Homo sapiens: one gene and its partners. Changing the gene in region 2 together with the main gene of any one other region gives a genetic interaction. Each region holds a gene or a part of one and is shown on either strand. Other genes may lie near its edges.

Evidence for each region.
Region 1: changes in RUVBL1 (region 2) and MED12 together harm fitness less than expected from each alone (positive genetic interaction), as found in Homo sapiens cells (one large-scale study listed by BioGRID).
Region 3: changes in RUVBL1 (region 2) and SETD1A together harm fitness less than expected from each alone (positive genetic interaction), as found in Homo sapiens cells (one large-scale study listed by BioGRID).

The regions. Positions count from the first base shown.
Region 1 is NC_000023.11:71,125,067-71,128,717, reverse strand, and holds part of MED12 (mediator of RNA polymerase II transcription subunit 12), read right to left. Parts: coding exon 3,572-3,651; intron 3,368-3,571; coding exon 3,223-3,367; intron 3,056-3,222; coding exon 3,005-3,055; intron 2,683-3,004; coding exon 2,564-2,682; intron 2,378-2,563; coding exon 2,234-2,377; intron 1,750-2,233; coding exon 1,586-1,749; intron 1,383-1,585; coding exon 1,251-1,382; intron 826-1,250; coding exon 598-825; intron 423-597; coding exon 278-422; intron 121-277; coding exon 1-120. UniProt on the Homo sapiens protein: Component of the Mediator complex, a coactivator involved in the regulated transcription of nearly all RNA polymerase II-dependent genes.
Region 2 is NC_000003.12:128,080,267-128,083,169, forward strand, and holds the end of RUVBL1 (ruvB-like 1), read right to left. Parts: intron 2,309-2,903; coding exon 2,217-2,308; intron 1,144-2,216; coding exon 984-1,143; 3' UTR 544-983; downstream 1-543. UniProt on the Homo sapiens protein: Possesses single-stranded DNA-stimulated ATPase and ATP-dependent DNA helicase (3' to 5') activity; hexamerization is thought to be critical for ATP hydrolysis and adjacent subunits in the ring-like structure contribute to the ATPase activity.
Region 3 is NC_000016.10:30,960,603-30,964,253, forward strand, and holds part of SETD1A (histone-lysine N-methyltransferase SETD1A), read left to right. Parts: intron 1-664; coding exon 665-935; intron 936-2,830; coding exon 2,831-2,952; intron 2,953-3,491; coding exon 3,492-3,651. UniProt on the Homo sapiens protein: Histone methyltransferase that catalyzes methyl group transfer from S-adenosyl-L-methionine to the epsilon-amino group of 'Lys-4' of histone H3 (H3K4) via a non-processive mechanism.

The DNA of each region.
Region 1 (3,651 bases), on a different chromosome or scaffold from region 2:
AGCATTAAGGAGTGAAGGGATGGCAGCACAGCGAATCAGATCTTCCAGGAGCAAACACTGCCGAGCGATGAGGATGGCAACAAAAGTAGCCAGCGAGTCATGAAAAGATAGGTCACTGACCTGGAGGAAAAAACAGACAGACACCATGACTCAGTGTGGAGGCCCACTCAAAGCGGTGTGCCTCCACTCTACGGAACTCTGTCCCTGGTCAGAGGATCACAACCAGCCCCCTGCCCTGGTCACTGCCCCACTAGCAAAACCCCACCCCAAGTCTCACATCAACATTGCAGAGGAGATCGTTGAAACCACAAGTGCCATTGTTAGAGGAGCAGCACAAGGCCTTAAGCACTCCTAGCCATTCTGCACTCAGTGACTTGCAATAGCCGGTCAGCTCTGCACACAGGATTGCGATGTCATTCACCCTAGGGAAAAGTACAAATGCCCTCAGGAAAAACCTTGCTCCACAAAACCTCAGACCCATTAACTTCTCATCTCTGCCCCACTAAATAATCAAGGTTGTAGTACCTCCCGGGTACCTCAGCCCTCCCTATCTCAGATGGGGGCATGGTGCCCTTCCTCACTCAGTACACCCCATACCTATCGGGATCATGGTGCCCCACACAGACGTGCATAAGGGCATTGCAGACAAAGCTGTAGCGGTTAGCAGGGTTCTCACTAAGACTCTTGCCTAGCCCCGTGTAGGTGAAGGTGTGAGCTGCAGGGTTCTCTAGAGTGTCGATCATGAACTCAGGTGCCCAGCGCATATTTGATTCCGATGGCTCCACGTTGCAGTAGATGGTGTTCTTCACCTTTGAGCAAAAGTCGCTGCAGGGATGGAGGAAAGGAGATAGTAGTGTTGAAGAAGGCCTGCTGAGGTCGAGGGATGGTCAGGAAAGGGGAGAAAAGAAAAAAAGGAGAAAGTGAGGGATGAAGGATCTTGAGACAAGAAAAGGGAGATGGGACAAAACAGACTGGGCAGGAAAGGAACCACATGGGAATAAGGAACTGGGGCCTCTGAAGGCAGTGAGGAAAAGGGGGAAGAGGGTGGGCCCCACAGATATAGGCGGGGAGCAAGCCTGCTGAGGAAGAGGGCCCACTCTTGGTAACACAACAGTATGTGGAGGACACAGTCCACAAATGACCCTAGACAGGCAGCAGGGTCCCGGGCCATCCTCTCCTCCTGAGTTGGGTGGTCATGGGAAGAAGGGAGTAGGTCCCACTCGCTACCCCTTACCTTCCACCTCTCTTACCTGAAGAGCTCCCCAAATTTGTTCTTTAAATGGCTACAGGAGGTGTACAGATCATAGAGATAAGCAAGGATACAGCGCTCTGCAGAGGAGCCATCGGACCGGTTCATCCCATGCTTCACGACGCCACACAGCCTGCATGAAGAAGCAAGGTTGGGAGGGTCAGCAGATGGTATGCGGGCTCCTCCAAACAGATTCAAGCCTCTGGGAAATACCATTCTTTTCCCACCTGAGCAGCAGGTGCTTCCCCAGAGTGTGAGGAAGTGCATGCTCTTCCCAGGCCACTTCCACCGGCATTCGCCAGAGCTTTGTTTCAGTTATTCCGAAGCTCTGCTTACCCCTCAAAGACCTGTGCCATCTGGTCCTGGTTGAGGATGAGGCAGGCATGATAGTGCCGCAGGACAGCCACGATGCACAGGCACAGGCTAGTAGTGTAGCTGCCCACCAGATCCGAGGATTTGAGAAGCAGCTCAGCCTCAACTACACTCAGTTCATTCAGCAGCTAGCAGAGTAAACGGGGGTGAGAAATGCAAAGAGGCCCCTTGTGTTACATAGAAACCACCTTCCTGTGGGGACGCTGGCAAGGCTGGGCCTGAGCCCCTTCCTGCTGGAGCCACCACAGGATAGAAGGGCTCGTTACCCTATGCCACAGTCTATCAACAACACCTCTATTGATAGTTTATTGTTGATAGTTTATTCTATCAACAACACCTCTAACCAGTGTCCAGGATACAGTTCTATGAACTCCACAGTGGGAGGATGGTCTGTGCCCAATGCTCTAATCTGCCTCTTGGCCTCCCCAGGGAGCACTTAAGTCTCTATTCCTGCAGTCTTAGCTCATGTTCCACTCCCCCCATGCTAGTCTTTCTGCCCCTTCAAATAGCTTGGGAAACTGGCTGGAGCCTCTACGCCTGTCCTTATGACCCTCCGTAGCCGCTATATGGCATGAACTCCTGCCTCCACCCTCATCTCCCCAACTTCCCCACCTGAATGGCAAAGTCGATGAGGCCACTGATGCTGAGTGAATATTCCATGAGGTCGAAGATGAACTGCACATGCTGCACCAGAGGCAAGTGGTATGACATGCCAAGGGCAAAGCTCGTGATCTGCTCCAGAACATTCCGGGAGACCTGATAAGGGCAGTGGGAGTGAGATGGGAGTGGAGAGAGGAAAGAACCAGGGAAGGAGGAAAGGATGACACTGGAAGGGGATGAGACCAGGAGGCTTAGCCTGCCTAGCAGGGAGAAGATAGGGAAGAAAAGGAAAACAGAACAGGAGGCCAGAATGTGGGAAAGGGGCTGGGCTTAGGCCCACACCTGAGCCGTGACCTGGTGTTGGTCATAATGTGAAAGGTGCTGGAACTTAGCAAAGATATCTTCAGCAGTGGGGAAGGCTTCAGGCCGGTTGCGTCGCCGCTTCTGCCCATCCTCCCCACCTGAGGGGACAGTTGAAAGGGACCAGTCAAGACAGGGAAGATAACTAGTTGACTAGGGGTGGGGAGTGGGGTATGGAGAGAAGGCTATGGGAGGGAGGGAGGGAGAGATGGAAGGAGGGAGGGAGGGAAGGAAGGAAGAGGGAAACAGGGAAGGGAGGGTCAAGGAAGGGATGGGGGAGGAATGAAGGGAAGGGGACAGTGAAGCAAAGGTTTAGAGGACCACAGACTATGTGGACCTTAAAGGAATATGTACAGGGAGGTGCTAGGTTCAGGGAGGGAAGGGAGAGGGAGGGAGGGCAGTATGGGGCTTACTGTGAGGTACCTAAGAATGTCAGGTCTCCAGGATTCAGAGGCACAATAGGAGCAAGCTGGTCTGTAGAGGGGGGGAATGAGGGGGGAAGTTTCAAAAGGACTAGAGCTCTCAGGAGACTCCAAGAGACAGGACATTGGGACATGACTGGGGAGTTCCCTATACTGGGGAAGGGAAGACTGACTAGGGCATTCTTTGGGGGAGATCTGTTTAAGGAGCCTCAAACCCACCAGTTTCTGCTGTCCCTTTGCGGTTCAGAACCTTCAAGATATCCTTGGTGATTTTCTTGATGGCATGGCGGGCATCATCTCGCTGCTTTCCCACCCCAAACAGTACGACCAACCGCTGGTTGCACTCATGGCTGCATGACTCCTCCTGCATCCCAGCAGCACCATCAGACTCCAGCACCGATCTCCTTCCCTCCTCTTGAAAGCATGCTCCACACCCCTCAGCATCCACATGCTAAAGCCCTTCCCTTTCCCAACCCACATCCTCAGAACAGCTCCAACCCCTCAGCAAATTCCTTTGACAGCAATCTGGGTTCAAAACAGATCATCACAAGGTGCTGGGGAATAGTACCTGGGGGATGGGAAAATGGGTGGCGTACTGCACGTGTCGTGGCTGGTCGTAAAGAACCCCAAGGGTCCCTTCAATCTTCT
Region 2 (2,903 bases):
ACTTCCGTAAGTCCATTCTGATACAATCTTCCATGCAGAATCCCAAATAATTTTGGTAAATACTCAGTTCTCTAGAGGTGAGCATAACCCCTGCCACTTAAGTGTGGGCTGCATATAGTGACTTCCTTCCAAAGAATTCAGTATGGAAAGGCAGCAGAGAGTAACTTTACAGTGAGAAGACCCGACAAACATGACCTCAGCCAAAGGGTCAAGCTCACCATCAACGATGAGTCATGTTGCTAGCATGTGATGAGAACCACACATGATACGATGTGATCAGAACCACATTTCACCTCTAGTCTTCCTCTCCATAACCCACAATCCCAGTCTACTCATGAGAAAAGCATCAGACAAACCCCAACTGAGGGATGTTCTACAGATACCTGATCAGTCCTCCTCAAAACTGTCAGGGTCATCAAGAACAAGGAAAATCTAAGAAGATGTCACAGCCAAGAGGCATCTAAGGAGACATGACAACTAGTTGTAATGGGTTATCCTGGATGGGATCCTGGGACAGAAAAAGGACATTAGGTAAAACTGAGAAAATGTGAACGCAGTAGAATAATGCATCAGTATTGGTCATTCACGGTGACAAATGTGCTATCTGATGTAACACGTTAACAAGAAGGGAAACTGGGTACAAGATACATGGGAACTCCCTATTGTATGTTCACAATGACTCTGTACATCTAAAACTGTTCTGAAAAGTTTATTTTTAAAAAACTTAGAGAGAGAGAGAGAGAGAATCAAAATAACCTATGAAGATTTATAGAAAACACACCAGGTAAGGAAGGGTTCTTTCAAAGCAACCACAGGAACAGTTACGATAACTTAAAAAGAAATGCTTTCCACACTGAACTGACAGCGCTGCAGACCACGCCTGAGTGGGGACGGCAGCCCCAAGCCCAGGGGCAAGCGCCCACAGGCTGGACCCAGGCCAGGCACACCTGGGGAGTCTCTTACTGCTGAAAACCTCAGCCATCTCACTTCATGTACTTATCCTGCTGGTCAGCCAGGATTTTGGCGGAGGACTTGGCATCATAGAAAAGTTCACTGATCTCTTCGACATGCTCTTTCTCAATGCTGTCCTTCCCGTTGATTTTAGCAAGCAAGTTGGCCGGGGTCAGCAGCTGCACTGAGTACCTAGAGTGGACAGGGGCCAGGGCTGGAGTGAAACTGGGGCCACCGAAGAAAGCACCTTCCCCCCACATCAGTAGGCAGCACTGGCACCAGGAGCAGAGCCCAGTGCTGGGCTTGTGCCAGCTGCTACGAACACAGAAAAGGGGAGACAAAGTTGTCACTTCTCAGAGAGCTGCAGTCATTATCCCATCAGAGAGGGTCCAGGAGCCACCAAGAAGACATAAGTGCTATTCCCCAAATCTTTAGTACAGTCTACAAATCCTCCAGTAGGAAGTAATGTCACTGCTACTGGAAAAGGACTGCAAACTTATATGTATACAGGTGTCCGACAGATAGGGATATTTAACATGGCAGGGAAATGAAAACATAGCCAGCTGGAAGTACATGCCCATCCAAAGGCATGAAGACTCTGCCGTTTTAAAAAGTACCCCTTCATCCAAACCTCACAGCTTGCATTTCTGCCTTCAACCTCAGGAGCAAGAACTGACTCAAGGGATGTAGGGAAGGGCTGAGGACTGTGAAGCAATGATTTTACAATGAGTCAGGCCACTGTGAAGGGACATGCTCTGCCGGTCCTGTGTTTGAGCCGCTGGAGAACAATTAGGAGAACTGTCTATGTCTGCGCTCCTCCCTGGCTCTCCATATCCACCACCCAGACATTTTTTATTTGCTTGATGGTTAAATAAATCAAAAAAGTTAAAGATTTACCAGGCCTCATAACACCACCGGGAGAACAGGAGCCAGGGCCCTGGCTAATGAGCTACCACATGGTCCCTGCTCTCTAGTTCTGTGCATCTTCTCTGCCACAAGAAGGCCCAGGGTCAAAGCACTCTCCACCAGAGGGGAGCATCTGCTGCAGGACATGGGGACTTCACCCTTACTCTAGCTTGTTAAAAACCATCAGATAGATCCTCTGCATTTGAAACTCAAGTGCCCTGGCACCCATCGCGCCAGGAAGAGCGGATGGATAGAGTCCCATGCCCTAGGAAGGGACCTGCCTTTATTGTCCAGAATGACCCCAGCGAGGGCCCTGGCTGTGCTGGGGAGGCCCCGGCGGGCCCAGGGTACCAGCTCACCTCAGTGTGGTCTTGGTGCCAATCTCCCCCAGGTGGTTCAGTGCCTCCTCACTGATGTTGATTCCTTCCGTCTGGGCACGGATTTTAATGATCTTTTAAAGGATAAAAAACATGATCAACGGTGACTGACCTCAAGTGCCCCATTTCTAAAGTGCTTTAAAGACAATGTTGCTCAGATTTCTCACTGTGCAGCATAAGAGAAACTGAGACCTGGGTTGGTGGGCAGGGAGCCAACGCCTGCCCAGCACTGCCGGCCCGGCACCCTCCAGGAGGCATGTGCGGCCCTGCAGTATGCATGAATAGCATCACGGCCAGTGTGCTGTATTCAACTGACTCAAGTGTGGCTGGTGCCCAAGGAGGTATGCAGCTTCCCAAGTGGCTCACTCTTGCCTCCATGTCCTCCCGTCCCCTGTCCCCAGGCAGAGAACTGGGGCCTCTTCTAACCTACCCGGGGCTCCTGCAAGGGCTCTAACCTTCCTCTCCAGCATGGGCACTACTGCCTACAAGCACTCAGGCAAGAAGGGACATTTTTTATTTGCTTGATAAATATGATGGTTAAATAAATCAAAACAGTTACTTTTAAAGATTTACCAGGCCTCATAACATCACCGGGAGATATCTAATCTATCAAGAAGAGGCTGACGCTTGTTGCAGTTTGAAGATCTTGGTAGAGTTGGAGGGGAGGCA
Region 3 (3,651 bases), on a different chromosome or scaffold from region 2:
TCTCTGTATTTCCAGTGCCTCGTTCATGGTAGTTACCTAGTAAAGGCTGAGCTAGGAAATCATCGCCCTGTAGCTCGTTCTCTCCACGTATATTTATTCCTCAGTGTGTACATTTCTTTCTTTCTTTCTTTTTTTTTTTTTTTTTTTTTTTGAGACGGAGTCTCGCTGTGTTGCCCAGGCTGGAGTGCAGTGGTGTGATCTCGGCTTAGTGCAACCTCTGCCTGCCAGGTTCAAGTGATTCTCCTGCCTCACCCTCCTGAGTAGCTGGGATTACAGGTGCCCACCATCACATCCAGCTAAATTTTTTTTTTTGTATTTTTAGTAGAGACAGGGTTTTATCATGTTGGACAGGCTGGTCTTGAACTCCTGACTTCTGGTGATCCGTCCACCTCATCCTCCCAAAGTGTTGGGATTATAAGTGTGAGCTGCCACACCCGGCCTAGTTTGCACATTTCTGTTCTTAATTCTTGCTGTTATTCTGTGGTGAGAAGAATTCAGGGAAAAGGGGTCAGGTCTGATGGATCCCTTATTTTGGGCCCCTTCCCTTGCCCCTCACTTTCCCGGATCTCTCTCTTGACTTCATGGAGCTTGCTAAAGTTTCCCGAAGGACAAAGGAACAGTGGTCAGTGTTGAGACCCCATACCAACTCCTGTTCTTTCCCCAGCTGGACGAGTTCTATATTGGACAGATTCCACTGAAGGAAGTGACTTTTGCAAGGCTGAATGACAACGTGCGGGAGACCTTCCTGAAGGATATGTGCCGTAAGTACGGTGAGGTGGAAGAGGTAGAGATCCTCCTTCACCCCCGTACGCGCAAGCACCTGGGCCTGGCCCGTGTGCTCTTCACCAGCACTCGGGGCGCCAAGGAAACGGTCAAAAACCTCCACCTTACCTCCGTCATGGGCAACATCATCCATGCCCAGCTTGACATCAAAGGTGAGGACTCCTCTGCCTGCCACTCAGGCTTGGCCTCCAGCGGAGGTTGTACATGCAAATGCCTGTCAGGGTCAGGCAGGCGCCCAGGGTCATGATCTGAAACTGCTGGGGCCAGTTGTGTTTCTGAAATCAGATCAGATTTTAGAGTGGAATTATGGTACATGGATTTTTGTGTGTGTGGTGTCTCCAGCAAGGTCGGGCAATAGGCCATAATCAAGCACATAACTATCTGTAAAAAAAAAAAAAAATCATATGAAGGGTTGTACTAGGTAAGATGAATAGATTGTAGTAAATCAGCCCAGGTCAGGTTGGTTGCTTGGTTGGTTTTTGAGACAGGATCCTGCTCTGTCACCTAGGCTGGAGAGCAGTGGCGTGATCTTTCCTCACTGCAGCCTCCAGCTCCTGGGCTCAGCCACCCCAGCCTCCTGAGTAGCTGGGATTATGGGCATGCACCACCACACCTGGCCAAAGTTTTTTTGATTATTTGCAGAGATGAAGTCTCACTACACTGCCCAGCCTGTTTTTAATTTTTTTTTTTTTTTTTTGAGATGGAATCTCAATCTGTCGCCCAGGCTGGAGTGCAGTGGCACGATCTTGGCTCACTGCAACCTCCACCTCCCAGGTTCAAGTGATTCTTCTGCCTCAGCCTCTTGAGTAGCTAGGATTACATTTATGCGCCACTACGCCCGGCTAATTTTTGTATTTTTAGTAGAGATAGGGTTTCACCCTGTTAGCCAGGCTGGTCTTGAACTCCTGACCTCAAGTGATCTGCCTGCCTCGGCCTCCCAAAGTACTGGTATTACAGGCATGAGCCACCATGCCTGGCCTCTTTTTAATCTTTCTATATGCTATTCTATAACCCATATAGGTTTTGGTGCCAGATTCTCAGAAATACTGGATTTTCTGGGTTTTTAGGTTTGGAAATTTGAGATAGAGAGTAAAGGAGCTGTGAACACAAGCGAGGTGGTCTGGGCTTCTGTGTTGAGTGATGGGGAGCAGTGGGGTCTGTGGCGAGCTGCAGATTGCAGTATTGTCTGGAGGAGGCAGCCATTAGTAGGCACTGGCCAGTTTGCAAGTGGAAATGAGGTTTAACATTCTTGAATTTGGTTTGTAAAAGAAAGCCAGGGCCGGGCATGCGGTGGCTCACGCCTGTAATCCCAAGACTCTGAGAGGCCAAGGTGGGCAGATCACCTGAGGACAGGAGCTCGAGACCAGCCTGGTCAACATGGTGAAACCCCATTTCTATTAAAAATAACAAAAATCCGGACGTGGTGGTTCATGCTTATAATCCCAGCTACTCGAGAGGCTGAGGCATGAGAATCACTTGAACCTGGGAGGTGGAGATTACATCGTGCCACTGCACTCAAGCCAGAAATTTGGGTTTTTGTGTGAAATCTCATGGTTTTTAAATACCATGTTTCTTTCCTCACAAGGTGTTTCTGAGGTGTTCACTCCACAGCTCCTGCAGGCTCCGTTAGTCCCCCGGTTGCTGTTCTGCATGCTTTAGTTTACAGGATAAAGAGCATGGGGTGATCGAGCCTCTGGGTTTGAATTCCAATTTTTCCAATGACCAATTCTGTGACTTTGTGTAGGTCGCTTTTAAGCCTCTAGAACAGAGGTACTGATGCTTCCCTTCTGGTGATCCAACATGGTAAAATAAGTAGAAGTGTTTTTGATAAATCGTGAAGTGTCATAAAATATGTTGTTTGTGGTAGTTTAGAGGTAGAGATAAGGTAGAAGGTCCCAAAGGTAGAGTTATGGTAGGAGAACTGAAATCCTGAAACCCAGATTCCAAGAAATTGTAGGAAACTTGAGGCCTGAGAAAGCAGGAATACCAGATCAGGAAGGAGTTAGTATCTCCATCTGACAATTGGTTCCCATTTCCCTCCCTCCAGGACAACAACGAATGAAATACTATGAACTAATTGTCAATGGCTCCTACACCCCTCAGACTGTGCCCACTGGGGGCAAGGCCCTGAGTGAGAAGTTCCAAGGCTCGGGTGCAGCCACTGAGACGGTGAGAAGTTTGTGGCTACCACAGCCCCTAGCCATGTGGGCATGGTGTCCGGGTGCCCGGAGCAGGAGCAGTCTTCGGGAGGTTCCGGGCTTTCCCGTTAAACAAAGAAGAGCCAAGCAAAGCTGCTGAGATGCTTTCAAAAGACAGGGAACTAGGGGCCAGGCACAGTGGCTCACGCCTGTAATCCCAGCACTTTGGGAGGCCGAGGCGGGTGGATCATGAGGTCAGGTGATTGAAACCATCCTGACTAACACGGTGAAACCCCATCTCTACTAAAACTGCAAAAAATTAGCCAGGCATGGTGGTGGGCGCCTGTAGTCCTAGCTACTTGGGAGGCTGAGGCAGGAGAATGGCATGAACCCGGGAGGCGGAGCTTGCAGTGAGCCGAGATCACGCCACTGGACTCCAGCCTGGGCAATAGAGCGAGACTCCGTCTCAAAAAAAAAAAAAGGGAACTAGGATTCCTGGTTTGGGAAAGGGCAGGTCTCAAGTGGTGTTTGAGCCCATTCCTCTCTCCTTGCCCTGCTCTGTCGCTCTAGGCCGAATCCCGCCGCCGCTCTTCCTCTGACACAGCTGCCTACCCAGCAGGCACCACTGCGGTGGGCACTCCTGGCAACGGCACCCCCTGCTCCCAGGACACAAGCTTCTCCAGCAGCCGACAAGATACCCCATCTTCCTTTGGCCAGTTCACACCTCAGT